Homo sapiens: one gene and its partners. The protein of the gene in region 1 purifies or fractionates together with the protein of each later gene. This does not show direct contact. Each region holds a gene or a part of one and is shown on either strand. Other genes may lie near its edges. The genes, in order: ABHD14A, NDC1, TRABD and TMEM59.

Region 1 (7,371 bases):
CTGAAGCTCAAGCCAACCCACCATTGGAATCAATCCTGCCTGGGCAGGAGGCTCGCCCTTGAGCCCTGAAACCATACCATCCCTGGCCTGAGGGGGTGGGGCCAGCCATGCTGCTCCTTTCACACCTGGCACCGAGGGTTGGGACCCAGCCATCTGGGTTATGACAGGCAGTCTGGGCACTGATCCCATCTACCCTAGAACCCAGCTCAGGGCTTTGCATGTGGGATCACAAGTGGGGGCCTGGCCACCCACCAGGCCCTGCCTTGTCCCCCAGAAGACTCAGGTCTCACTCCTTAGGGCTTCCAAAAGCCTATGGTTATTATTCAGTCAAAATACTTTACTTCCAATTGGCTGAGCACCGATTACTCTGTGTCAGGTACTAGCCACATACTCACATGGATTATCTCATTCCATTCTCATTAGAGCGAGCCCAAAACATGAGTGTGGTTATCTCCCATTGCAGATGAGGAAACAGAGGCTCAGAGACACTGAGACAATGCCCAGGTAACAGTGAGGAGCAGCTGGGCGGTGAGGACCACATCTGGATCAAGACTGCTCAGAGGCCCTTGCAGTGTGCTTGACCAAACGCTGTCAAGTTCAGGGCCCAGCCTGGCTGGGTCCTCCAGATCCCACCGCCCCCACCCCTGGAGTGGGGAGGGGCTACATGTTATAGGAACCTGGCCCTGTCCCTAATGAGACCTCCCCAAACCCTGCCCAGAAGCCTGCCCCTTAAGTACCTGGCAGGTCAATGGCCACAGCCCGGTAGCCAGCCTGGGCCAGCCTGTGCAGTGTACCCAGGTTCTGCCAGGTCTCGGAGGAGAAGCGAATACCATGCAGCAGCAGTACAGAGAAGCGAGCCTGCCCACTGCCGGGCAGGGCCTCTCGGAAGAAGAGGGCCTGGCCCTGCACCTGGATGGTGCCCTCGCGCTGCTCCACGCTTGCTGCCATGCCTGCTGCTGCTGTGCTGGTGAAGGGCCTGTGGTTCAAAACCACGATGATGAGGGGCCACAGAACACCCTGCCCAGGGTGGCAGTCCCAGAGGAGCAGCAAGGAAGCCTCCAGGAGGTTTCCAGAACTTTAAGAACATGCCTTGGGGTCAGGAGGACATAGGTGTTATTTCTGCCTCTGCCATTTACTTTAGTGTGTAACCTGGGGCCTCAGCTTCTTGATCTGAAATATGGGAACAATAAAGCCAACTTCAAGAATTAGCAATTTAATTAAAAGTTTAAGAAAAATTATCGGCCAGGCATGGTGGCTCACGCCTGTAATCCCAGCACTTTGGGAGGCCGAGGCGGGTGGATCACCTGAGGTCAGGAGTTCAAGACCACCCTGGCCAACATGGTGGAACCCCGTCTCTACTAAAAAGAAAAAAAAATTAGCCAGGTGTGGTGGCACGTGCCTGTAGTCCCAGCTACTCAGCAGGAGAATCGCTTGAACCCGGGAGGCAGAGGTTGCAGTGAGCCGAGATCGTGCCACTGTGCTCCAGCCTGGGTGACAGAGTGAGACTCGGTCACAAAAAAAAAAAAAAAAAAGAGCCAGCTGATGGTCACATGTAACTCTCATTAGGCCAGGCGCGGTGGCACACGCCTGTAATCCCAGCATTTTGGGAGGCCGAGGCGGGCGGATCACCTGAGGTCAGGAGTTCGAGATCTCCCTGATGAACATGCAGAAAGAAACCCCATCTCTACTCAAAATACAAAATTAGCCAGCTGTGGTGGCACACGCCTGTAATCCCAACTACTTGGGAAGCTAAGGCAGTAGAATTGCTTGCACCCAGGAGGCAGAGGTTGCAGTGAGCCGAGAACGCGCCATTGCACTCCAGACTGGGCAACAAGAGAAAAACTCCATCTCAAAAAAACAAAAAACAGAAAAATTATCAGTGGGGGTGCCTGCTGTAAAACCTCAATATGTGGTGGGGCTCCATTACAATTACTGTTCTTATTCTCATCGTTATTATCCTTTTCTATAAATGGGGATAATTCAATAGTACTAGCTCATAGGTGGTTGATAGGATTAAATAAGGCCATGCATGTACCATGCCTAGCACGTAGTAAGGGCTCAGTGCTCAATCAACGGTAAGTTACAGGTCATGAGTTGTCAATGCAGGCCAGAGGGAGCCCAAATTGGGGTAAAAAGCCCATTTTATTTTATTTTATTCTATTTATTTATTTTGGGACAGAGTTTCACTCTTGTTGCCCAGAATGGAGTGCAGTGGCATGATCTCGGCTCACTGCAACCTCCACCTCCTGGGTTCAAGCGATTCTCCTGCCTCAGCCTCCCGAGTAGCTGGGTTTACAGGCGTGCGTCACCATGCCTGGCTAATTTTTTTTTTTTTTTTTTTGAGACGGAGTCTCGCTCTGTCGCCCAGGCTGGAGTGCAATGGCACATCTCCGCTCACTGCAAGCTCCGCCTCCCGGGTTCACGCCATTCTCCTGCCTCAGCCTCCCGGGTAGCTGGGACTACAGGCACGCGCCACCACGCCCGGCTAATTTTTTGTTTTTTTTTTTTTAGTACAGACGGGGTTTCGCCGTGTTAGCCAGGGTGGTCTCGATCTCCTGACCTCGTGATCCGCCCGCCTCAGCCTCCCAAAGTGCTGGGATTACAGGCGTGAGCCACCGTGCACGGCCTAATTTTTATATTTTTAGTAGAAACGGGGTTTCATCATGTTGGCCGAGCTGGTCCGGAACTCCTGACCTCAAGTGATCCACCCACCTTGGCCTCCCAAAGTGCTGGGATTACAGGCGTGAGCCACCGCGCCGGAACTAAAAGCCCATTTTCTTCGGTTTTTTTTTTTTTCTTTTTTTTTTTTTTAAGAGAAGATGTCTCGCTCTGTCGTCCAGGCTGGAGTGCAGTGGCGCAATCATGGATCACTGCAGCCTTGACCTTCCTGGGCTCAAGTGATCCTCCCGGCTCACCCCCAGTAGCTGGAACCACAGGCGCGCTTCCACACCGGAAAGCCCATTTTCTAGAGGCGGAAACCGAAGCGCCCAGTGGGAAAGGCGACCCGCCGGGGATGCGGGGTGCTCAACGCGCTGCCACCTGGGGCCCAACGCGTTGACCTCGCGGTCAGGTTGCTTCCGCGGACTACGGTTCTGGCTCGCTAGCTCTGGAAGGGAGCACCGGGAGGGAATGGTGGCAACTCCCAAGGAGGGGACCCAGGGATCCGAGAAAGGAAGACTTGGGGTAGGTGGGGTTGGATTTTGACTGGAGAGAAGAAAGGGTCAGGAGTGCAGGGCGGGTACCTGGGGAGCTGCGTGGACTCGCGCAGACGGGAAGCAGGCGCGTGCTGGCGGTGACCTGGGGCCGGAGGAGGAACGCTGGGAAGAGGCCGGGCCCCATCCAGCGGGGGCGGGGACTGGGCCGTGCTCCGGGGCGCCCTCTTGTGGCCACAAGCTCGCAGCGTCCATAGACTCCGCTAAACTCGTTCTCACAGCGGCGTCAGTTTCCCAAAGCCTCTCGGTCTCACATGCCCCAAACGCGGTGCTGAGCACGGTTTCGAACTCTTCAGCGACCTGCCCCACATGGACATGGAGCAGTCTGAGGAGGAAAGTTCCTTCGGGATCGCATCCTTGCTGCTGTCTTCCTGCTCCCCATCCCCCTTATCCCCAGCTTGAACTGCCCAGGGCAACTTGTTGGCCTGGCACGGAGTTGAGGCCCGACAGGTTTGAGTGCGAGGCTCCGCCAGTGTCCAGCCAAGTGGCCTTGATCGTTTTCCCAATGCCCCCGAGCCTGTTTCCTGCCAGTAGAGCGGGTCAGATGTTGCCAACCTCTGCAGAGTAGCAATAAGCAGTAAACGCCACGCTCTGCACAGCCTCCCAGTGCTGGGCCTGGTCGCCACGCGGAGCCTTGGGCTGGGACAGGCCAGACGTTGGTAACACATCGCCAACCAGGGCAGGCGCCATGAGTAGACGTGAACGAGCCCAGGGCCAGCCCAGGCTCTGACCGTGGGTGTGCGTCGGGGAGGGGGTGGGGAGGAGTGGGTAGGAGTCAGGAAAGTGGGTCGGCCAAGACCTGGAGCTGCTGCATAACAATATCTGGCATTTACACAACGAGGCCTCTGCTCCGGACACTGTTCTGAGGCTTGACCCGTCCTTAAGAACCTAGGACAACCCTGTGCGGTGGGTTTTATCCTTAACTCCATTATACAGGCCAGAGAACTGAGCCAGGGTGGAGATGTTCCACTGAGAAGAAGCCACATGGCTCTCCGCCGGCTCTCAAGCCAAAAACAGTTCCGAAAATCTGGGCGGGGAGCGGGCCAGAGAGCGCTGGGGCTCTGCCCCCAGCACCCCCTCCACGCAGACGACTCGGTAACTGGGTTGCAGGCCCGCGGCTGCGGAGTGCGCAGGCGCGCCGAGATGGCCGCGCTCCTGGCCGCCTAGAGCCGGAGCGGCCCGCGGAGCTGCGGAGGCAGCCATGGTCGGGGCGCTGTGCGGCTGCTGGTTCCGCCTGGGCGGGGCCCGCCCGCTCATCCCGTTGGGCCCGGTGAGTCTCCCGGGGGAGGGAGGCCGGCCGGTGGCCCAGGGGAGGGCCGTCTTTACCCCGCCCCTTGCCCCGGCGCCCCGGGGCAGAGTCCCGCGGAAGAAGCAGACGCTGGGGCCGCGAATGTGCATGTGCGCGCGTGTAATGTGTGTGCGCGCGCAGGGTCTGCATATGTTCTTGGGGGTCTGGGTGTATGTGTACGCTTGTGTGTCTGCATGGTGTCCGTCAGTGGGTTTCTGCGCGCTTATATTTTTGGGGGGGGGGTGTGTTCGTTGATGTCTGCCTGCTTGTGTCAGCGTTATGTCTTCCGAGTGTATTTCTGTGTGCGTGTGATTTTAAGGGTATGTGTCTACCTGTCTGCGTGTGTGCATTTCTGGGGGTTTGTGTGTGTGTGCGTGTCTGCTTTCCTGTGCATGTGCCTTTCTTGTGTGAATGTGTAGTCTTACGGTTGTGTGTATGACCGTGCTTGAGTATTTCTGAGGATCAGCCTGTGGTTTTCAAAGTGTGCATCTCCATCAGTCTCTCTGGCTTCCTGATGCCTGACTGTGTGCGTGATGTAGAGGGTACCATTACAAGGGATTAATTGCACACGGGCCAGTGTGTGTGCAAAGAGGCTGCATGTACATGCAGGGAATAGCTTGTGCAAAAGAAAAGCGTGTGGGGGCAAGACTCGTATTTGTGCGTGTGTGCACCTGTGTGTCATTGTCAACGCATATTCCAATGACCTAACCCGGGCACAGTTTACCCTGCCCCCCGCAAACCCCCGCAGGCGGCCAGCTGCAGGTCCACTACAATTTCCTAGTACTGCGGGCACCCTCGGTTGCCAAGGCAACAGCCTAAGCCCCGCCCTTCCCGCTTTGGAGAAGCGCGGGGGCGCCCCGAGTGGGCAGCAAGGAAATGTCCCTCGCGCCCGGTGGGAATCTGGACTAACGCCCAGTTAGAGACGCGCGTCTGAGGTTGTTAGTGGTCTGGAAGAAAAGAGGAACGCGCTCTTCCTCCACTAGGTCCTGGTTTTCCAGAAACAGCAGAAAGGCGGCTGCTGCTGTGGCTCACAAGCCCCCCGACCCCGAAGCCTGGGGATGCGGGCTCAGGAAACATCCCCAAAACATCCCGGAGGGATGAATAGGAACCAAGACGGGCCCCCGGCTCCTAGTTCGGGCAGGCGCCCAGTTGGCACTCAATAAAGATGTGCTGGCCCGGCGCGGTGGCTCACGCCTGTAATCCCAGCACTCTGGGAGGCCGAGGCGGGTGAAACACGAGGCCAGCAGTTCGAGAACAGCCTGGCCAACATGGTGAAACCCTGTCTCTACTAAAAAATACAAAAATTAGCCGGGCGCGGTGGCGGGAGCCTGTAATCCCACTATTCGGGAGGCTGAGGCAGGAGAATTGCTTGAACCCGGGAGGCGGAGGTTGCAGTGAGCCGAGATTGTACCACTGCACTCTAGCCTGGGCGACAGAGCAAGACTCCGTCTCAGAAAAATAAAAATAAAATAAAGATGTGTTTGCTGGACTCCTGGAAGGAAGCAGGCGTGCTCATCCTAGGCCCAAGAAATGACAGGGACAGCCCTGATCCAGTCCACGGTATTATCTAAATCTCACAGGAAGCTTAGGAGGGCAGCCACGAGGTTATCCCATTTTACTGACAAACTGAAGACACAAGGTCAGGAAGTGGCAGTCTCAAAGGCCTGTCCTGTTTGAGTCCTGGGTCCTAAGGGCTGTCCTCTGGGGTGGCAGAGACCCCAGATTGGAGGAGTCCACGAAGCAGTCATTTGGCCAGAAGCTGTCTGTGTGTAGGATGGGGAGTAGCAGGCGGCATTCATCTCTCCAACCTCTACACTGTGCTTTTCATTTCTGGGTGTACCATGCTCCTCCCTGGCCCTGCAGCCCCTCACTCCTCAGCATTTTCCTCTATTACAAGACATTCTCTGTGAGCCTCTTCATAACAGCTGGGTTAGACCTTAGTTATAATGCGATTGTAAAACGCGTTCTGATTTTAGCAGTATTAAATGCAGTGAGATTAAAAGAACCATTTCCAAACATGCCCTTAAGTGGGAGGTCCCTTTGCGCGCAGTCTTTCTCCTTTGATAGCCCTCATCACTTTTTCCACCTGCAAGGCTCCAGTTCATCCATCATCTCCCAGCTCCACGGGTTCCTCCTTGGCAAACCGAGTGTGGCCTGGTAGTTAGAAGCCCATTCCTAGGTTCAAACCCCAATTCCCCCACTTGCTACTTGGCACTTTGGGCAAGAGAATGTACCTCTCTGAGCCTCCATTTCCTCACCTATAAGAGACCTATAATCACGTCTGCTCCCCAGCATTCTTGGTGGAAAAGAACCTTGTATGTGAAGTGCCACACTCAGGGCCTGCTGTCATAAGCGCTTGATGAACGGAAGTGGTTTCAGCTGATGCCATGATGGTGGCGGTCACTGAGCATGCTGTGTGCCAGAGAACACCTCAGATGCACCTCCTCACACTGTGAGGTATCTGAGCGCTTGCCCTGGCATGTGGAGTAGTTGAGTGTGAACTCCCAGAACTTTGCCCAGAGCAAGGGAAAGGGCAAGGGCTGGAGCTCTTCCTCTGCTGGGGACTCTGGGTGGGGTTTTGGGATGGGATCCAGGGTCCTTGTAGGGACTCAGTTCCAGCCTCTTTTCCCTCTCCTCTCCCTCTCCAGACTGTGGTACAGACCTCCATGAGCCGGTCCCAGGTAGCCCTGCTGGGCCTGAGTCTGCTGCTCATGCTCCTACTGTATGTGGGGCTGCCAGGCCCCCCTGAGCAGACTTCCTGCCTCTGGGGAGACCCCAATGTCACAGTCCTGGCTGGTCTCACCCCTGGCAACTCGCCCATCTTTTACCGCGAGGTGCTCCCACTCAACCAGGCACACAGGTAGGTGCTGC
Region 2 (7,044 bases), on another chromosome or scaffold:
CAAATCAGTCTAGGTTAAGGGCAAAAGCTGACTTCTCAAGAAGTTCAACTCTTTCTGGTTTTATAAGCAACAACTCTGAGACTAAATTGAAATGATTCAGGAAACATCACCACCACCACCCCCCCGCCCAGAAATTAAATAATTGACCTTATAAACACACATATTTCAATTAACTGTTCCATTTTTTTAAATTGCCAATTTATTTTTCTACCCAATCCAGTATCAACGATATACAAAAGGATATAAACAGACTATCATGAATATTTACAGGATGACACACCAAACAATTACCAAGGAACAAATCCTGCAAAGTAACAAATTGTTGCTTATCCATGTCCACTCAACTGTACAAGGTTTATTTCTAGGACAATTTCCCAGTTCTCTGGGAAGGAAGTTCTGTGGATTTATACCTTCCATAAGGGTCAAGCAAACATGCTAAGAGCTGATACCATCATGTTTTTATACTAACAGCCGAGAAAGGCTTTTAAAGAACACTCTCTTTCAGGCCAATGTTACAGCATTAGTGGGCTCATAGACAGGATGTGACTTCATCAAAGGAAATGCTTCTCTCCTCTTGGTCTCCCTAAGGTCCTCCTCCTAGTACACAGGAGGAGTTCCCCATAATAACACCCTGGTTCCAACAGATGGTGTGTAGATTATCAACACACAATGAGAAAAAGAAACTGACCCCCTTACCTACCAAATACAATACAGATCTGGGGAGGCAGTTTCCAGATCTTCAACAGGCAGACACTATGTGGCCTGTATTTAGTACACAGCACATTCTCTTAAGAGAAAACAGGAATGAACATTCTCAGAAACATTCACATTGCTCATCAAATGTAGCTTTACCCAAAGTATATAGGAAATGGCAAAAACCTAACCTAGCTGGACATTTTATACAAGTAAGTCAAAGTTCAAAGGAATCATCCTATCTTTATTCTCAGAAATCCAATGTTGAATATCACAGTTCTTCTTTAATGGAAGCAGAAGATTCAGAGTCCTTGTCTCCCAAAATGCCTCAGCCAGGGTCAGCACAGAGAGTGGAATATAAAAAGCTTAATTGTGTTAATACATGGAAGACAACAGTTCTCAGTCAACCTAGCCACAATTTTCTGTCTTGGCCATCTGTAAGAAATGACTACGTTTGAAATTCAACTTTCACATTCAAAAAAAAGAAATCAATTCAGCTTCAGACACAAAGCAAAACCAAAACAAAAAAACAAATGGCAATAGTCTACATATCTAAACACTTGACAATTGGGGAACTGTCCCACAGTGATATGCTCAAGGCCAGTAGCACCTATTTATAATTTGGCATGTACTGCTTGAAGGGGCAACAGGACCCGGAGCTAAAATATTCAATTATAAAGATATAATACATCGATGAATCAGACAAAAGTAGACATATATGATACCACATTAAAGATTCATATACAGTACTGTGCTGACTTTAAAGAAAATATTTTGGGACACTAGAAGGAAAAGACAATAGGAAAAGAATTACAAAGGAGCATTTCAGTCCAAAGCCAGTCCAGTGAATATCTATGACTAGGATTTCCAATCTTTGATCTCCAAAGAAGCTGATCTAATAAATTCTAACAATACTTCGTTCACATTTGGGACACACAACATACTTCCAAGTACAGTAATCCCTCTGACGTTTTGGTTTCACTTGCTATTTGATGACTAAGTTGTTTCTGGCTATAAAGATCTTCCTATTTTAATTAGCCATTTAACACTACAGAGGCTGCTCCCTTTGAGAGACCAGACAAGTTTCACAGAATTTGATCTAATGAAGATGAATGGTGGGGAAAAAAGGGAACATTTCCTGGGTTTTTTTGCAAACCTTTTTCTCTTGCTTGAAAAACTCTGCAATCACTTAATGTTTTGCTCCAGAAAAAGAAAGCAAAACTAGCTGGGAAAATACCCATACATTAATACTTCGTGTTTACTAGCATGATACAAAATAAATTCATAGATGTCAGTCAATTGTTTCTTAAAGACCAAATGTGAATTTTTAATCTTGTAACTTAAGAACTGAGTTTTTCCACATTCCTTTATATAGAGTTAGCATCTGTAAACTGAGACCCTTTTTTGGGTAATCATACAAATTTAATTTGTCCCTGGAAACAAAAACCCAACCTAACAGATTAACAAAATATGTCCGTTAGACAATATTTTTTGTGAATATTGCTGCACTGTTACCATTTTTATCCTTCAGTAAATGAAACTACACTTAAAAAGTTTATGTATTTTGAGTTTACAAAGAGCTAAACTCTTAATTAAGAAGACTATGAAATCAACCTATACTCATTTCAGAACTGGCTTCCCTCCTTTCAAAAGTAAATTCTAAAAGTTTTTTAGTTATTACTATTAAGTTATATGAGCTAGAGACATTTCGACTGCCATCAATGCTTCTGTAAAATTGAATAAAGATTTTATTATACCACACACACAAAAAGCAATCGGTACAGAAAAGGCAGTTTTCAGTTATTCTGTTGAGAATTTCTTTCCATGATTTCTCCCATTAAAGTATAGTTTTCAAAGCAACCACCACGACAAAGGAAGCATCTAATTAGTCCGTTTTCTTCTGATCCAAGAATGCTGAACATTTACTGTCCCATCTGTAGTTGTATCAGCAGTGTAATGAACACAGTTTATATTACTTAACTATTCTTTGAACTCCAAGAACTGTTGAAGTCTTTTCTGATGTTCTGCAGATGCTTGCACAGCACTAAATGAAACATAAATTCAAAGCATAAGCTTTATTTTACATTAAGCATATTAAGTGAACCACAGAGCACAGAGACAATATTTTTCAAAACAATTAAAAATGAATAGAAATCTTCACTTATTACTATTTCTGAAAAAGCTGGATGAAAACTCTTTTTAATCTAATGAAGAGGAGGGCTTGCATTCAGTAATGGCATGCTTCTATCTTCTAAAAGACCAAACAAATTAAGACTGACAAGTGAAGGCATTGACTTTAACCTGCTCTGCTATGGAACCTGCTGTGCGGAGTTCCAGGCCTTGGAGTAGATTTTCTGGATTTTATTATTTTATTTAAACCAGATTCCAACATTATCTTTGAGTTGTGGAGTATCTGAATTGCCTTTAATACAAAATCCTTTAATCTAAAATGTTTGGTTAAAACACAATAGACTCCATTAATTGTTTTCAAAGGTAACAGCTTGGTGGTTTAGATTTACTTCTCCCTTTGAACATAAGTTATGTTTTGGATGTGAACACTGTGTTCTCTCTCCACCCTCACCATCACGAAAATATATTACACCTTGATAAAATTAGGGCAAATATATACTGAAACTAGTATAATACTTCCTCTTAAACTTTTGGGCAAAAATTGAATATAATGAAAAATTCCGGTTTTCTAGTTCTTGAATAGGTCACCGCTTTTAAAAGTGCCAAAACGGTCTTATTTTAATAATTGTGTTATGAATTGCCCTAAAATGTCTTATAGACATCTTTGCTTTCTTGAACCATGTACCTCCAATTGAACCATTTCAAGTATTTTACTGTACAAAGATGCCCTCTAGGTGCTAGTGAGGCTGTCTTCTCTAACTTAATGGCTCTGGAATTCTCTCCAACACCAAATCTGTGGCTTTCCCATTATATTTCTCTCTGCTAGCAGGTAGTAAAGTGTCCCTTACAATTTACTATTAGTACTCCTGACTCTAGTAGCAATCTCTGCCCCTCAAATAAATTTTGATATGGGCCAGGCATGGTGGTTCACACCTGTAATCCCAACACTGAGAGGCCTGAGGCAGGAGAACTGCTTGAGCTCAGGAGTTTGAGGCTGCAGTGAACTATGCTATGATCTTGTCACTGCACTCCAGCCTGGGCAACAGAGCAAGACCCTGACTCAAAAAAATTTTTTTGATATGTTATAGGCTGGAAAACCAGAATTAAATTAGCCTAAATTAGGAGTAAATGGGAGGTGGCAGGGAATGGGGAGATGTAGGTCAAAGGATAGAAAGTTGCACATATGTAGGATGAACAAGTCTAGAGATCTAATGTATAACATGACGACTATGGCTAACAAAATTGTAATGTACTAGGTATTTTTGTTAAATAAGCAGATTTTAGCTGCCTTTGACATACACACAAGAAAGTAACTATGTGAGATGACAGACATGTTAATTTACTTCACTAAACATTTTACTATTTATATATAAATCCCATAACATATGTTATAAACCTCAAATATACACAATACAATTTATCTTTTAAAAAATAAGTAAATAGTGTTGAATGAATGTCTCCAATGAGTGGGCTGTGTTTGTTAGTTGATTTTCAGAGCTCAAGAGCTAACTTCATTTATACCTAGTTCTCAGAGGTAGAGCTTTGAATAGTGAATAATCAGATATTATACAATAAGTATCATGATAATGTAGACTGCACAGTGGGCTTTACCTACGTATGATCCCATTTTATCTTTACTAACAACAAATGAAACCAAGTGGGTGTGAGAATGTTCCCTTTCATGGGGACAAAAACTGTATCAGAAAGATTCAGAAGTTAGGGGAAACACCACAGTCTAGGTTAGGAGTATAGACACTAGAGATAGAACCCTAGGGTTAGAAAGATTTGCATCTGAATCCTGGTTCTGCAACTCACTACTTGCATAATCTTGGGTGAATTACTTAAAACACTAGGAAACTTGCTCACAATCACAGATAGCTAATGATGCAAGCAGACAGAAATCCAGATATTTTAACTCCAGATCTAACATTCTTTCCACTATACGACACTGTCCTACATTTGTACAAATAGCCTCCACTGATTTTATCAGCTTTGGCACATATATAAAATATGGCTCTTTTCAGAGAAAAGAAACTAAGGTGGAATTTCATTCTCACAATTTTTATTTTATTTATGTATTTATTTATTTTTGAGGCAGGGTCTCGCTAAAATATGGCTCTTTTCAGAGAAAAGAAACTAAGGCGGAATTTCATTCTCACAATTTTTATTTTATTTATTTATGTATTTATTTATTTATTTATCTTTGAGGCAGGGTCTTGCTCGGTCGCCCAGGCTAGAGTGCAGTGGTGCAGTATCGGCTCACTGCAACCTCCACTTCCCGGGTTCAAGTGATTCTCCTGCATCAGCCTCTGGAGTAGCTGGGATTATAGTTGCCTGCCACCATGCCCAGCTAATTTTTGTATTTTTAGTAGAGAAGTGGTTTCAACATGTTGGCCAGGCTGGTCTCAAACTCCTGACCTCAGATGATCCGCCCGCCTTGGCCTCCCAAAGTGCTGGGATTACAGCCATGAGCCTCTGCAACCGGCCCATTCTCATAATCCATTCTCATAATTTTTAATCAGTCATCTATATCTCTTTTTCTTTTTTTTCTTTGAGACCGAGTCTCGCTCTGTTGTCCAGGCTGGAGTACAGAGGCACGATCTCGGCTCACTGCAACCTCCGCCTCCTGGGTGCAAGTGATTCTCATGCCTCAGCCTCCCGAGTAGCTGGGATTTCAGGTGAGCACCACCACGCCCAGTGAATTTTTGTATTTTTGGTAGAGACGGGGTTTCACCATGTTGGCCGGGCTGATCTCAAACTCCTGACCTGAGGTGATCCACCCACCTCGGCCTCCCAAAGTGCTGGGATAACAGGCATAGACCACTGTGCCTGGCCTATATCGCTTTCTTATCTAAATCCCTATGCTCCCCTTTTCTTCTTGCCTTTTTTCCCCCAGGGGAATGTTACAGTCCTGCTATTTATCCAGCCACTGATTAAGCTGGATAAAGCTGGCAGGAACTTCAAATTAATCTCGAATACAATGTCCCCCCTGCCTGGACATGAGCACAGTCAGGCAAGGTCTACGGGTATGCCCTTCTCCTTGCTTTTGTTCTATCATTAATATATGTCATATCTATTTCATTCTCTAAATTCATCAGTATTTTCTGAATGTGTCCTACATACTAATTTATATCTTGGAGGCAGTCTAGTGTTGTAGATAGAAAGATGAAAGATTTTTAAGAGAAAGAAAGACTTGATTTCAGGTTCATGTTTAATACGCACTAGATTGTGCTATCAGGCAAATTTTAACATCTCTATGCCTCAGTTTTCGTATCTGTACAATTATGATAATTTCTACACTTCACAGGGTCTTTGAAAAGAGTAAATGAAAAAACATTAAGTTCTAAGTGTATTGTCTAGAATAGCACTATCTGATAAAACTTTCTGGAAGTAGGGAAAGATGTTATACTTCTGTTGTCCAATACAGTAGCTACTAAACACATGTAGTTATTAAGTACTTCAAATGTGGCTAGGGTGACTGACAAATTGAATTTTTAACTTTATTTAACTTTAATTTAAATTGGAAGTCTTAAACTATTCATTGATTGCATACAAAAACAGCAGAGCAATCTCTCGTGTCTTCTAAAGTTCATTTATAATTGTGATAAATATAAATACAGTTTAGTTACTAAGCTAGTATCCCTCATCCTGCCTAGCTAGATCATTTCACAAGAGGAAAGCAGTAAACATGAATAAAACTAAATATAAACAGGCTTGGCATTTGTGGTTTTCTCTCTGGTTCTGTTTCTCAAGGTGTTGTGATCTGTTGGTGTTTTTCCAGCATGAATCACAAAGCACCAGGGATTCATTTCTGGAATACTTTGCTCACCCCAAGTCTTCAGTTTGCTGACCAAGATATAACAATAGAATTAGTTTTAATATGCTTTTCTGGAAAGGTACTCGGGTTTTCTGCTCTTTTTTCTCCCTTAAGGATCTTTTGATAATTTAAATATATATATATAATTAATCTGCTGCATTTATAACTTTCTGTCTTCTTTTGTCCATTTGAAAGAAATCCCCAAAGCTTTATGATGGGCCAAATTTTAAAATATAAATATTAAGTCCACATCCAAGCTGTAAGTTTACAGTGAGAATCATCAAGGTCCCAAAAGAACACTTTCAACACATGAGCCTTATCATTCCCATACCTATTTCTAAGGAAAGCTCCCCAGAATAGGTATCATCATGGATCAAAACAGGTAAACTTACTTCAGATGTTCA
Region 3 (4,227 bases), on another chromosome or scaffold:
GTCCCTAAACGTTTGGCGCCTGCCTTTCATTTTTTAATTTCTCCAGATGAGGCAAGTCACCAAAGAAGACCTCTGTGGGCCGTCTTCTAAAGGGCAGTCCCCGGTCCAGCCAGGGCCCAGCACTGGGCAGCCTCCCCACCAGAGCCTGGGGCCCAGTGATCTCGAAGGGGCATAGAATTCGGCAGTGCCGTGCTGCTCACTGCTGCGGTGTCACAGAGGGAAGGGGGCGTGGGGCAGGGTCTGGGAGACACCAGGTGTCCGCTTCACCTGTCCCCTCCCGGGGGACACTCGCTGTGCCCTGGTGTCTAGGTTTCTACTGGGGTTGGTCACAGGCACGTCTGAGCTCAGACCCCAGCCCCTCCAGAGGTGGAGTGGGTCCCAGTGGACCAAGGCCTCGTGAATGTCTCATCCTAAGTTAGCCTGGGCTCCCCAGGGTGGCCTGGGCCCCGGGGAAACACGGGCACTCCATCAGGCGGGACATTCCCAGGGCTCATGGCTCAGGCCCAGACCGTCCCTGGGCGCGTGCAGGTGTGAGCGATTGCCCGGCGCTGTGTGGCCCCCGGGGCTTTGCTGCCCTTCTGTGGGCATCATCTCCTTCACACGTGGACACCCCCGTGGTGCCAGCCGGCCGGTGAGACAGGGGCAATAGGCCTCGGGCTGTAGCTGCTGAAGATGGGGGTGGCCTGGTGTCCGCACCAGCAGTGCTGTGCTGACCTCAGCAGGCAGGTGTGAGTGGTGAGGCCCTTTCTCCAGCCTGCCTGCCCAGCACCCAGCGTCTGTGCCAGCTCAAGGCGGCCCCTTCGCAGAACGAGACTGCCTCATAAAGGCCTTTTCTTCTTCTTTTTTTTTTTTTGAGACAGAGCAGTCTCACTCTGTCACCCAGGCTGGTGATCTCGGCTCACTGCAACCTCTGCCTCCGGGGTTCAAGTGATTCTCCTGCCTCAGCCTCCCGAGTAGCTGGGATTACAGGCACCCGCCAGCACACCCGGCTAATTTTTATATTTTTAGTAGAGATGGGGTTTCGCCATGTTGGCCAGGCTGGTCTGAGAGAGAACTCCTGACCTCGTGATCCGCCTGCCTCAGCCTCCCAAAGTGCTGGGATGACAGGCGTGCGCCACTGCACCCGGCCCGTGAAGGTCTTTTCTGAAGGGAGCTACCTTTGAGAAGTGCCTGTTGGGACAGAACTCCCTGCTCTGGTCTGACCCTCTGCACGCTAGGGTGGTCCTGCACCTGTCGGGGAGGGGGCCAAGGACACAGCACTGGGCTGGGGCAGGGCTCTGCGCTGGTGCTGCCTGCCATCCCAGTTCTGCCATTCCCCCAGCGCACCCCCGCACCCGCCCCTCCAGCTGATGCCTGCTCCCTCTCTCTGCAGAACGGGCTCATGTCGGGGCTGATGCAGATGCTGCTGCTGAAGGTGTCTGCACACATCACCGAGCAGCTGGGCATGGCCCCAGGTGGCGAGTTCAGGGAGGCCTTCAAGGAGGTGGGCACAGGGTGAGGTAGGGGGTGGCCACAGGGATGTGGCTCACAGGGGTGGTCCGGGGTTCCCACTGCTCCCCAACACCCAGCCTCTGCTCCAGGCCAGCAAGGTGCCTTTCTGCAAGTTCCACCTGGGTGACCGACCCATCCCCGTCACCTTCAAGAGGGCCATCGCAGCGCTCTCCTTCTGGCAGAAGGTCAGGCTGGCTTGGGGCCTGTGCTTCCTGTCAGACCCCATCAGGTAGGGCTGCCCCCGGGACCCTGGCCGGCCTGCAGGGTGGTCTGTGGGAGGCTCCAGGCCCTCCTGTGCAGGTCCAAGCGCAGCCAATCCTCACTCAAGGCCTTCCCTGCCCTTTCCTTCCGCCACAAATCCCAAACAAACGTGCTGTGGTCCCTGCCCGGTGTCCACAGTGCCAGCCCCACCCCCCCAGCCCGTTGCCCATCCCTGCGGGGCTGCAGCCATCCCTCTCCACAGCAAGGATGACGTGGAACGCTGCAAGCAGAAGGACCTACTGGAGCAGATGATGGCCGAGATGATTGGCGAGTTCCCAGACCTGCACCGCACCATCGTCTCGGAGCGCGACGTCTACCTAACCTACATGCTGCGCCAGGCCGCGCGGCGCCTCGAGCTGCCTCGGGCCTCTGACGGTGACGGCCGCCCGCAGGCGTGGGACCCCCTGTGAGGCTGAGGCCCGAGCAGGTACTGACCCCTTGTCCTTCCCCACAGCCGAGCCCAGGAAGTGCGTCCCCTCCGTGGTCGTGGGCGTCGTGGGCATGGGCCACGTGCCTGGCATCGAGAAGAACTGGAGCACCGACCTCAACATCCAGGAGATCATGACGTGAGTGCCCGCCCCTCCCTGCAAGCCCCACCCCACAAGCCCCCAGGTGGAGGCTGAGCGCCCTGGAGGCCAACCACATGCGGCAGTGACCCAGGCATGGGGGCTGGGGTATGGGGAGCCCACCCCCAGCCAGGCCCAGCGCCCCCTCCCTCCCACAGCGTGCCCCCGCCGTCCGTCTCCGGCAGAGTGTCTCGGTTGGCCGTGAAGGCCGCCTTCTTCGGCCTGCTGGGCTACAGCCTGTACTGGATGGGCCGCCGCACCGCGAGCCTGGTCCTGTCGCTGCCCGCCGCGCAGTACTGCCTGCAGAGGGTGACCGAGGCCCGGCACAAGTAGGAGACTGCTCCCCGCCCGCTCGGGCCCCTGAGGAGCCAGTGCCCCCGCGGCACTTCTGGGTGCCAGGTGCATCCTAGCCCGCCCGAGGCCCCTGCCACCCCCCATGGGGGTCTGGGCCCGGCCTCGCCTGCCCTCCTGGGCCAGTCACCCCTCCCCCAGCCCACCCAAATAAAGGATTATTTAACTGTCTGAGCTCAGGCCTCCCGGCAGCCCCTCCCCTCCCACACTGCAGGGGCCGTTCCCCAGCTTCTGGACAAGACACCCAGCTCCGAGGGGGCAGGGGCTTATAGGAGGGGCCGAGGCGTGCGCTGCCCTCTCAGCCCTGGTGGCAGGCGGGGGACAATGGCCACTGTCCCTACCTCACTGTGCCTTCCTGTGCTCCGGCCACAGGAGCGTCGGCCCAGGGGCGGCTCCTGGGGGCTCCAGGGCAGGCGAGACTGGGAAAGGCCCAGCCCTGGAGCTCCAGCCGACCCCACCGTGCCCCTGGCATCCTGGCCCTGGCCGCCACCTCCCTGGCACCGTCTGCCTGCAGGGATTCTGTGTTTTTGGCTTTTTTAATGTCTTAAAATCTTTTACTCAGGTAATTTTAATTTCAGAGAGAAAAACTGAAGTAAATGTCAAAAAACACCAGCCTTAAATCCAAAGGGAGAGAATTCGTGTTCTTGGGTCTGTCCCGAGTGGGCTCGCGTGCAGCCAAACATCAGCTCTGGGTCCAGGCGTGGCCTCAGCTGGGAGCCTGTGTCCTGAGCCCCCGGAGCGAAGGGGTGCCTGGGGCATCTTGGCCCTCTCTGGGCAGACAATGTGTGCACCTATGTGGAAGGCCAAGGACATGGGCTGTGGCCAGGCCTGTCCCGCTCAGGCCCCCTGCCCGGCGGCCGTCTGTGTGCGGGGCCTCCCTCCTGGCTGTCCAGGACACAGCCCGTGCAGCCCCAGCCTGGACCCAGGCCATCTCTGGTTGTGTCTGTGCCGACTCGGTGTTGAATCAAATCAGGTGTGCGTCAGGAGCCGGCTGTGTCCTTCCTGCCACACTCGGGGATTCATTCCTTAGAAACTGAAATAAATTCTAATTTTGGAAACTCCTGTTTTGTGACGTGTGAACATGGGGTTCAGGTAATGAAGGATCCCTGCCTCTTCCCCCGTGCTCCAGTGCAGCGGGTACTCGTGGCCCTGCCGGGGCCCTGGGGGAAGGAACCTGCCTGGTTTCCAGCAGAAGAGACAGAGTCGGGTCCCTCCATGCTGACCTGTGGGACCCTTCTCACCCACCAGGTGGGACGCAGGTGGCCTGCTGACACTCAAGACCCTCCATACCCAGTCCCACCAGATTCCAGAGTGTGGACCAGACTGAGCCAGACTGGGGCCCCAGGGGGTCGAGGAGACAGATCAGGAGGGCCCAGGGCCTGGGGAATGGGGAGGGGTAACACCTGCCAAGGAGGATGCTGGGAACGGGCGCCCAGAGCGGCCGGGGGGAGGGGGCTGCTGAAGAGGGAACGGTTGCTGTGGGCTGCAGAGGAGGGTTGGGCACGGGGACCTCACCACATTATCCCTCATCCAGTTACCTGCCCAACGCACGCGGAGG
Region 4 (7,000 bases), on another chromosome or scaffold:
GATAAGATTGACCAGATCATCTAGTAATTTCTGATTTACTACAAAACATATCACAAATGAAAGGTGCCCATGAAGTTTTGTGAGAAAACTTGGAACCTAGGCCCAGATCATTCATTATGGTGATTAGTACTGCTTTTGTAATTGCCTGAATTAGCATGTCTCTTAGATGAGGGACCTGAGCCAAGAAAGACCTTAGAAGTCTGGGAGGTTTGAACCAGAGACCCAACGGTCTTGAGAATTTGCCTAGGACCAAGACCAGATTCTCAAGATGCTTTCTGTGTGGTAGGAAATAAGATTATGACTGTTTTATGGAAACAAGGAGCTAAGTAAAGTTAGGCACATCCAAGAAGGGCAAAACTGTTACTTTAGGAGAAGGGGCTTGGAAGCTCAGTTTTGTTGCTTTGGTTGGGATTTTCAAGATCGGAAACATTTTTATGCTGTATATATTTTGGGGATTTTTTTTCAAAAGTAAAATATTTCTTCTCAAAAGTAGATTCTGTGCTTCAGAATTTAATTACCACAAGGAGTCAGAAAATCAACACTACAATCCAGCTTCCCAAACAGAAGACTATATTTCCCATTATCTCAATCTTTATCACTGTACGTACCCTGACCCTAGACTCTAGTGTAGAACAAGTAGTTAAGGGAAGAGAGATTAAAATGGTTACTCATGCTGATGATACTCAAATGCAAACATCAGTCTGGCTTAATTATGCTAAAAAAGAGGAGACAAATATTTGAGTGCCTGCTAAATATCAAGAATGTCTTGGTATTTTCACATATAAGGAATTCTCTCAACAAGAGGGGAGATATTTGTCTAAACTTGGATCAATACTTTCAAGAGAAATGAAGGTATCTCAGGCACTTCTCATTCAGGAAGCGAAGAGAAATGAAACCAAGGGAAGGTGGAGAATATAGGACAACTGTACAGTTGCTTTAAAAAAAAAAAAAAAGATGGGATTCTCATTATATTGCCCAGGATGGTGTTGAACTCCTGGCCCCAAGTGATCTAGATAATTCTTTGTTTTGTTTTTATAAGGGAGGGTCTTTTCTAACAGTGGGCTCTTTGATTCCTGTGAGACAGCAGCATTTTGTGTTTCTCTGTTTGCTTCATTGGATGCATTACAATTAAACCTGTGCCTGACTAAGGAAACTAAGTATGCACTAATGATGGGAGACGAAACAACAGGGCTTTTTATTTTTTTTTAATGGTAACTCCTATCCACTACCCATGTTTTATATAGTCCCCATGTTTGTTTGTATTTTTTTGTACAGAGAGGGTCTTGCTATGTTGCCCAGGTTGGTCTCGAACTCCTGACCTCAAGTGATCCTCCTGCTTTGGCCTCCCAAAGTGCTGGGATTACAGGCGTGAGCCACTGTGCCTGGCTGAGTCCCCACGTTTTATCCCATGTTTTCTAACAAAAAGAAGAAAGAAACAATGACTGCTTGACAATGACGGCTAATTCCTCCTTTCTTCCCCATCTGGATGTGTTCACAACTTTCTATCATCCAAATCTAGACAAACTAAAAATAAAAACCTACACTTTGTGACCAAAGTCTTCCTTGATTAGCTGTTAACTGCTTTTCATTTGGACTCAGGAAGGCTAAAGACTAGGCCATAGGAGGAGTGACTAACTTATTCTTTAGTCAAACAGCACTGATGCAGTTGTCAGCAATGCCCCTGTGACTGAGGAAAGTATTGTTTTACAAAGTTTTTAATATTTTATGGCATAATAACAGTGAATCATATTAGAATTCTGGTGTAGGCTGGGCACAGTCACTCACGCCTGTAATCCCAGCACTTTGGAAGGCCTAAGTGGGTGGATCACCTGAGGTCAGGAGTTCGAGACCAGCCTGGCCAACCTGGTGAAACCCCGTCTCTACTAAAAATACAAAATTATCCAGGTGTGGTGGCGCATGCCTGTAATCCCAGCTACTCGGGAGGCTGAGGCAGGAGAATCGCTTGAACCTCAGAGGTGGAGGTTGTAGTGAGCCAAGATCATACCATTGCACTCCAGCCTCAGCAACAAGAGCAAAATTCCATCTCAAAAGATTCTGGTGTATTATTATTATGACCTGATATCATTCTAATATTAAGCTCTGTATTATTGCAGGTAAAAATAAAACGAGTTTTTGCCAAGTAAAATTTATACTTAATTCTGTATCACAAGAGTCTAATTTTTAGTGTTAAAATGAAGTTTTCTCTGAAAATATGTTTACCTTATACTTGATATGCTATCTAACAGAGAAAAATAGTTCTTTGGAAACACTCATCAAACAAAAACCTATAGCCTGTGCAAAATAACATCAAATGTACTGCTGAGAGATCAGTTTTGCATCAAAATGGTCCCTGACCATCACATTATAAAGCAATAGCAATAAACACAGAACATTTCATAATTCTTATCTAGGTTGGGCAGGAATAGGAGGGAAGGTCTAGAAAAATCAGATACTCAAATTTCAGCACATAATTATTCAAATAAAATTTTAATGATTTCAGTTCCTGAAAATGTAGTGTCATTAAAGGTCATTTCCTGCTAAATTTCAAATTACAGATTTGTGGGCCATTCCTGAGCAGAAGCATCATTTCTACTAAATATTCAGCTTGTTAACTAAGGTAACTGACAGTATCATGGCAGGAGGTGAGAAGGAGCAATGATCAGCTCATAGCTAAGAAAAGGGAAAAAAACAATAACCAAAGCAAAAAACAAAATAGCTACAGATATTAGTAAAATAATAATACAATCCCAAACATCCACCTCTTAAATTACTACAAAAACAATACCAATAAAGTTATAGCAAATACAGTCTTCACAGATTTGAGTAACTTTATTTGCATTTTATAGTGATTTCTTAAGGCCTATATCCAATGAAACCATTTTAAAAGCTCTATGAGGAGTGGAATTTTAGATGTCTATTACACTTGTCTTTTAAAAGAAAAATGCTTAAATTTCAGAATGAGCAAGATTCACTTTTGTAGGTAGAGGCCCTGCTTCTTCATGATCTTCAGTTTTAGATCTAACAACCACAAGAGAAGAAGCTGGATATCTGTTTAGCTTTTGTTCATTCATAAACTCCAAGTCACCATAGATACTCAGCTTCTGCAAAAGAAAACCAATGTACATTAGTAGTCTGGATAATTAGGAACCTCTCCAAGTTAGTCTTTAAATAACAATTTAATTTATAAATAGTTGGTAAAAAAAATTCTATAAACAACTTTAAGAAAGAAGAATACTTTTTCTCAAAGTGTTGTAGATATGTGATTCAGCTCCCAATGGATGGCCAAAGAAAGCTGTTCCACGTCTCAAGTTAAAATCCTCAGGAGTATAACAATTGGGTATCAAGAAAAACAGCTATGGATGCCTTAAGTGATCAAGTCCTTCAACATCTTAGCTCTCCTACCAAGTGGTAAAATAATTTGGTGCAAGTTTTTCTGCTCCTAAATGTTTTAGCTTAACATGTATGGAAAATGATAGATGCTATTTGAAAAGGCTGCGAGAACAAAGAATATGCATGAAATGCTCTCACACTGATAGAAGGGTCTTCATAAATATATAAAGTTCCTTAATTGTTAATACCATATACAAGAAGACACTAAAAGAATGAAAGCATAAAACAGAATCACTGCAAATGTCATAAAACTCATTGGAGAATAATAGTAATATCTAGCATCTTTTGAGAGTAGGTAGACTTAGATATATGTATGAATGTCTCTGTCTCTTTTTTTTTTTTTTTTAAAGAGACGGGGTCTTGTTCTGTTACCCAGGCTGGAGTGCAGTGGTGTGATCATAGCTCACTACTAGGCCTTGAACTCCTGGGCTCAAGTGATTCTCCTGCCTCAGCCTCCTGAGTAGCTAGGACTATAGGCATGCACCACCATGCCCAGCTAATTTTTCTTTTTTCTTTCTTTCTTTTTTTTTTCTTTCTTTTTTTTTTTTAAATGATGGGGTCTTGCTATGTTGCCTAGGCTGGTCTCAGACTCCTGGCCTCAAGTGATCCTCCTACCTTGGCCTCCCAAAGTGTTGGGATACATGTGTGAGCCACTAGGCCTGTCCGTATGTATCTCTTAAAGGCAGAAAAGCAAAGTGAAAAGTCTCCACTAAGAAACGGCATAGGCTGGGTGCGGTGGCTCATGCCTGTAATCCCAGCATTTTGGGAGGCTGAGGCGGGCGGATCACTTCAGGTCAGGAGCTCGAGACCAGCCTGGCTAACATGGTGAAACCCGGTCTCCACTAAAAATACAAAAAATTAGCCAGGCATGGTGGTACATGCCTGTAATTCCAGCTACTCAGGAGGTTGAGGCACAAGAATCACTTGAGCCCGGGAGGCAGAGATTGCAGTGGGGTGAGATCGCGACACTGCCCTCCAGCCTGGGGGACAGAGTGAGACTCTGTCTCACAAAAAAAAAAAAAAAAAAAAATGGTATAGATTCTGTTGTTAATCTACTCATACGGCAACAAATCCCTGTATCCAAAAGTTAGAAACTGAAGTGCTGATATCACTGGCAGGACAACTGACTAGATTATAAAGCAAGAACTCCACAGAAGTACCCGATACTGGAAAGGTGTTTTTAAAAGATGCTGAATAAAGAGCACCTTCAAGAGTTTATCAAAAGTGATACATGCTATCCTGGCTGGGCGTGGTGGCTCAAGCCTGTAATCCCAGCACTTTGGGAGGCTGAGGAAGGTGGATCACCTGAGGTCAGGCGTTCCAGACCAGTCTGGCCAACATGGTGAAACCCCATCTCTACTAAAAATACAAAAATTAGCTGGGTGTGGTGGTGCATGCCTGTAGTCCCAGCTACTAGGGAGGCCGAGGTAGGAGAATCGCTTGAACCCGAGAGGCAGAGGTTTGCAGTGAGCCGAGATCGCACCACTGCACTCTAGCCTGGGCGATAGAGCAAGACTCCATCTCAAAAAAAAAAAAAAAAAAAAAAGTGATAAAGTGATACATGCTATAACATGATGAACCTTGAAAATATGCTTAGTCAAAGAGGCCAGTCACAAGAGACTACATATTGGCTATCTAGGGCTGGAGGGTGAGATGGGGGTAGGGGTGGTGCAGCTGCTGCTGCTTGGGAGAAAATGGGGAGCAATTACTAAGAGTATAGATTTTCTTTCTGGGCTGATGAAAATGTTCTAAAAGTGATTGTCACGATAGTTGCTTACTCACACATGTTTCAGATGTGTTCTACTGGACGGTTGCCTCAGGGGAACAACTATCCTGCAAGGAGGTGCCCCAGTACCTTAAGCTTTTCCAGTATGAGAGTAGCTTTAAGACAAGTTCAGGCCAGGCGCAGTGGCTCACACCTGTAATCCCAGCACTTTGGGAGGCTAAGGCAGGCGAATCACTTGAGGTCAGGAGTTCGAGACCAACCTGGCCAACATGGTGAAACCCCATCTCTACTAAAAATACAAAAATAAGCTGGGTGTGGTGGTGTGCGCTTGTAGTCCCAGCCACTCGGCAGGCTGAGACACAAGAATCGCTTGAACCCGGGAGGTGGAGATTGCAGTGAGCTGAGATCGTGCCATTGCACTCCAGCCTCAGCGACAGTGCGAGACCCTGTCTAAAAAAAGAAAAAAGAAAGTTCAGTGGTTGATGGGTTGGACGTGGATCTGATGGATCTGATATAGCAGGCCTCCATAAAACTCAGAATTCACATGTGACCGTTGGCTCTGGGGCACTGTGAAAGAAAAATGTTCACAACTCTACCTAACAATATTTAAAGATCTTGAAGCAGCAACCAGGAACTGTTTGATTTTATACATCAACATGAAAGAAGCCACTGAAGGGAGGTAGGAGACTGAGGAGATGTTGGTTAAAGGACACAACATTTCAGTTAGATGGGAAGAATATGAAGATACATGAAAATACTTTGTAAATTTTAACGACTATATAAATGTTAGTTATCAACATTATCCTGTCCCAGTTTCCAGGTACCTACATCAATTATATCACCTTAATAAAAATATTAAGTGTAATATTATCTTAATCATTTTTCATGTGCAAATCATATATTTAAACATCTTTATAGTCTATTAGGATAAGACAGTTGTTCAGGCACCATGTTAGGCACATGCCAATGGCTTATTATTAGATTCTAATTTCTGTCTTTTCTCTTTTTCTATGGTACTTTGGAGGCATAAGAAAACTAAAGTTTATTTCAGTTGGATTAGATGTTGACAGCCATTATTATTCTATATTTAGTTATATAAATACTTTTCTGTTCTTGAAAGCTAAGTTGAATAATTAAATTATAGCCTTTCCCCCAAACAAAAATCCTTTACCTTAACAGTTATATTTTTTGGGCCAGTTAAATTTTAATTACCAAGGAAGTCACAATGTCTCCCATCTCTTTTGGGGTTAGATACCAGAATATAACAACTCAAAATCAAACACTCCAGCATTTTTTTTTCTTTTCTTTTGAGACTCAGGGTCTTGTTCTGTCACCAGGCTGGAGTACAGTGGCACAATCCTGGCTCACTGCAGCCTCAACCTCCTGGGCTCAAGTGATCCTCCCACCTCAGCCTCCTAAGTAGCTGGGATCACGGGCACGCACCACCATACCCAGATAATTTTTATAATTTTTCATAGAGACAGGATCTCATCATGTTGCCCAGGCTGGTCTCAAATTCTTGAGCTCAAGTGATCCTCCTGCCTAGGCTTCCCAAAGTGCTGGGATTAGAGAGGCATGAGCACCACACCTGGCCCAGCCTTGCTGCTTCTAAAGCAGCACTGATCCTTAATATTGTGGTAATTAATTTAAACTATTAAGTGGTTCTACAAGTCTTCTCTCTGGCTGGGTATGGTGGCTCACGCCTGTAATCCCAACACTTTGGGAGGCAGAGGTGGGCAGGTCACTTGAGATCAGGAGTTCAGGACCAGACTGGTCAATATGGTGAAACTCCATTTCTACTGAATATACAAAAATTAGCTGGACATGGTGGCGCATGCTTGTAGTCCCAGCTACTCGGGAGGCTGAGGAAGAATCACTTGAACC

What was found.
Region 2: the proteins of ABHD14A (region 1) and NDC1 purify together in Homo sapiens (co-immunoprecipitation; 2 studies listed by BioGRID and IntAct, with this or other methods). This does not show direct contact.
Region 3: the proteins of ABHD14A (region 1) and TRABD purify together in Homo sapiens (co-immunoprecipitation; 2 studies listed by BioGRID and IntAct, with this or other methods). This does not show direct contact.
Region 4: the proteins of ABHD14A (region 1) and TMEM59 purify together in Homo sapiens (co-immunoprecipitation; 2 studies listed by BioGRID and IntAct, with this or other methods). This does not show direct contact.

What each region holds. Positions count from the first base shown.
Region 1 is NC_000003.12:51,970,723-51,978,093, forward strand, and holds the start of ABHD14A (protein ABHD14A), read left to right. Parts: upstream 1-4,341; 5' UTR 4,342-4,413; coding exon 4,414-4,482; intron 4,483-7,148; coding exon 7,149-7,360; intron 7,361-7,371. Other genes in the region: putative protein-lysine deacylase ABHD14B, read right to left, coding at 738-948; ABHD14A-ACY1 readthrough (NMD candidate), read left to right, coding at 7,225-7,360. UniProt on the Homo sapiens protein: Possible role in granule neuron development.
Region 2 is NC_000001.11:53,765,297-53,772,340, forward strand, and holds the end of NDC1 (nucleoporin NDC1), read right to left. Parts: coding exon 7,033-7,044; intron 5,858-7,032; exon of another isoform or gene 5,722-5,857; intron 2,738-5,721; coding exon 2,674-2,737; 3' UTR 182-2,673; downstream 1-181. UniProt on the Homo sapiens protein: Component of the nuclear pore complex (NPC), which plays a key role in de novo assembly and insertion of NPC in the nuclear envelope.
Region 3 is NC_000022.11:50,195,869-50,200,095, forward strand, and holds the end of TRABD (traB domain-containing protein), read left to right. Parts: intron 1-1,372; coding exon 1,373-1,483; intron 1,484-1,568; coding exon of another isoform or gene 1,569-1,580; coding exon 1,581-1,720; intron 1,721-1,954; coding exon 1,955-2,127; intron 2,128-2,206; coding exon 2,207-2,318; intron 2,319-2,476; coding exon 2,477-2,651; 3' UTR 2,652-3,247; coding exon of another isoform or gene 3,248-3,260; 3' UTR 3,261-3,727; downstream 3,728-4,227.
Region 4 is NC_000001.11:54,029,205-54,036,204, forward strand, and holds part of TMEM59 (transmembrane protein 59 isoform 2 precursor), read right to left. Parts: intron 3,102-7,000; coding exon 2,946-3,101; 3' UTR 1-2,945.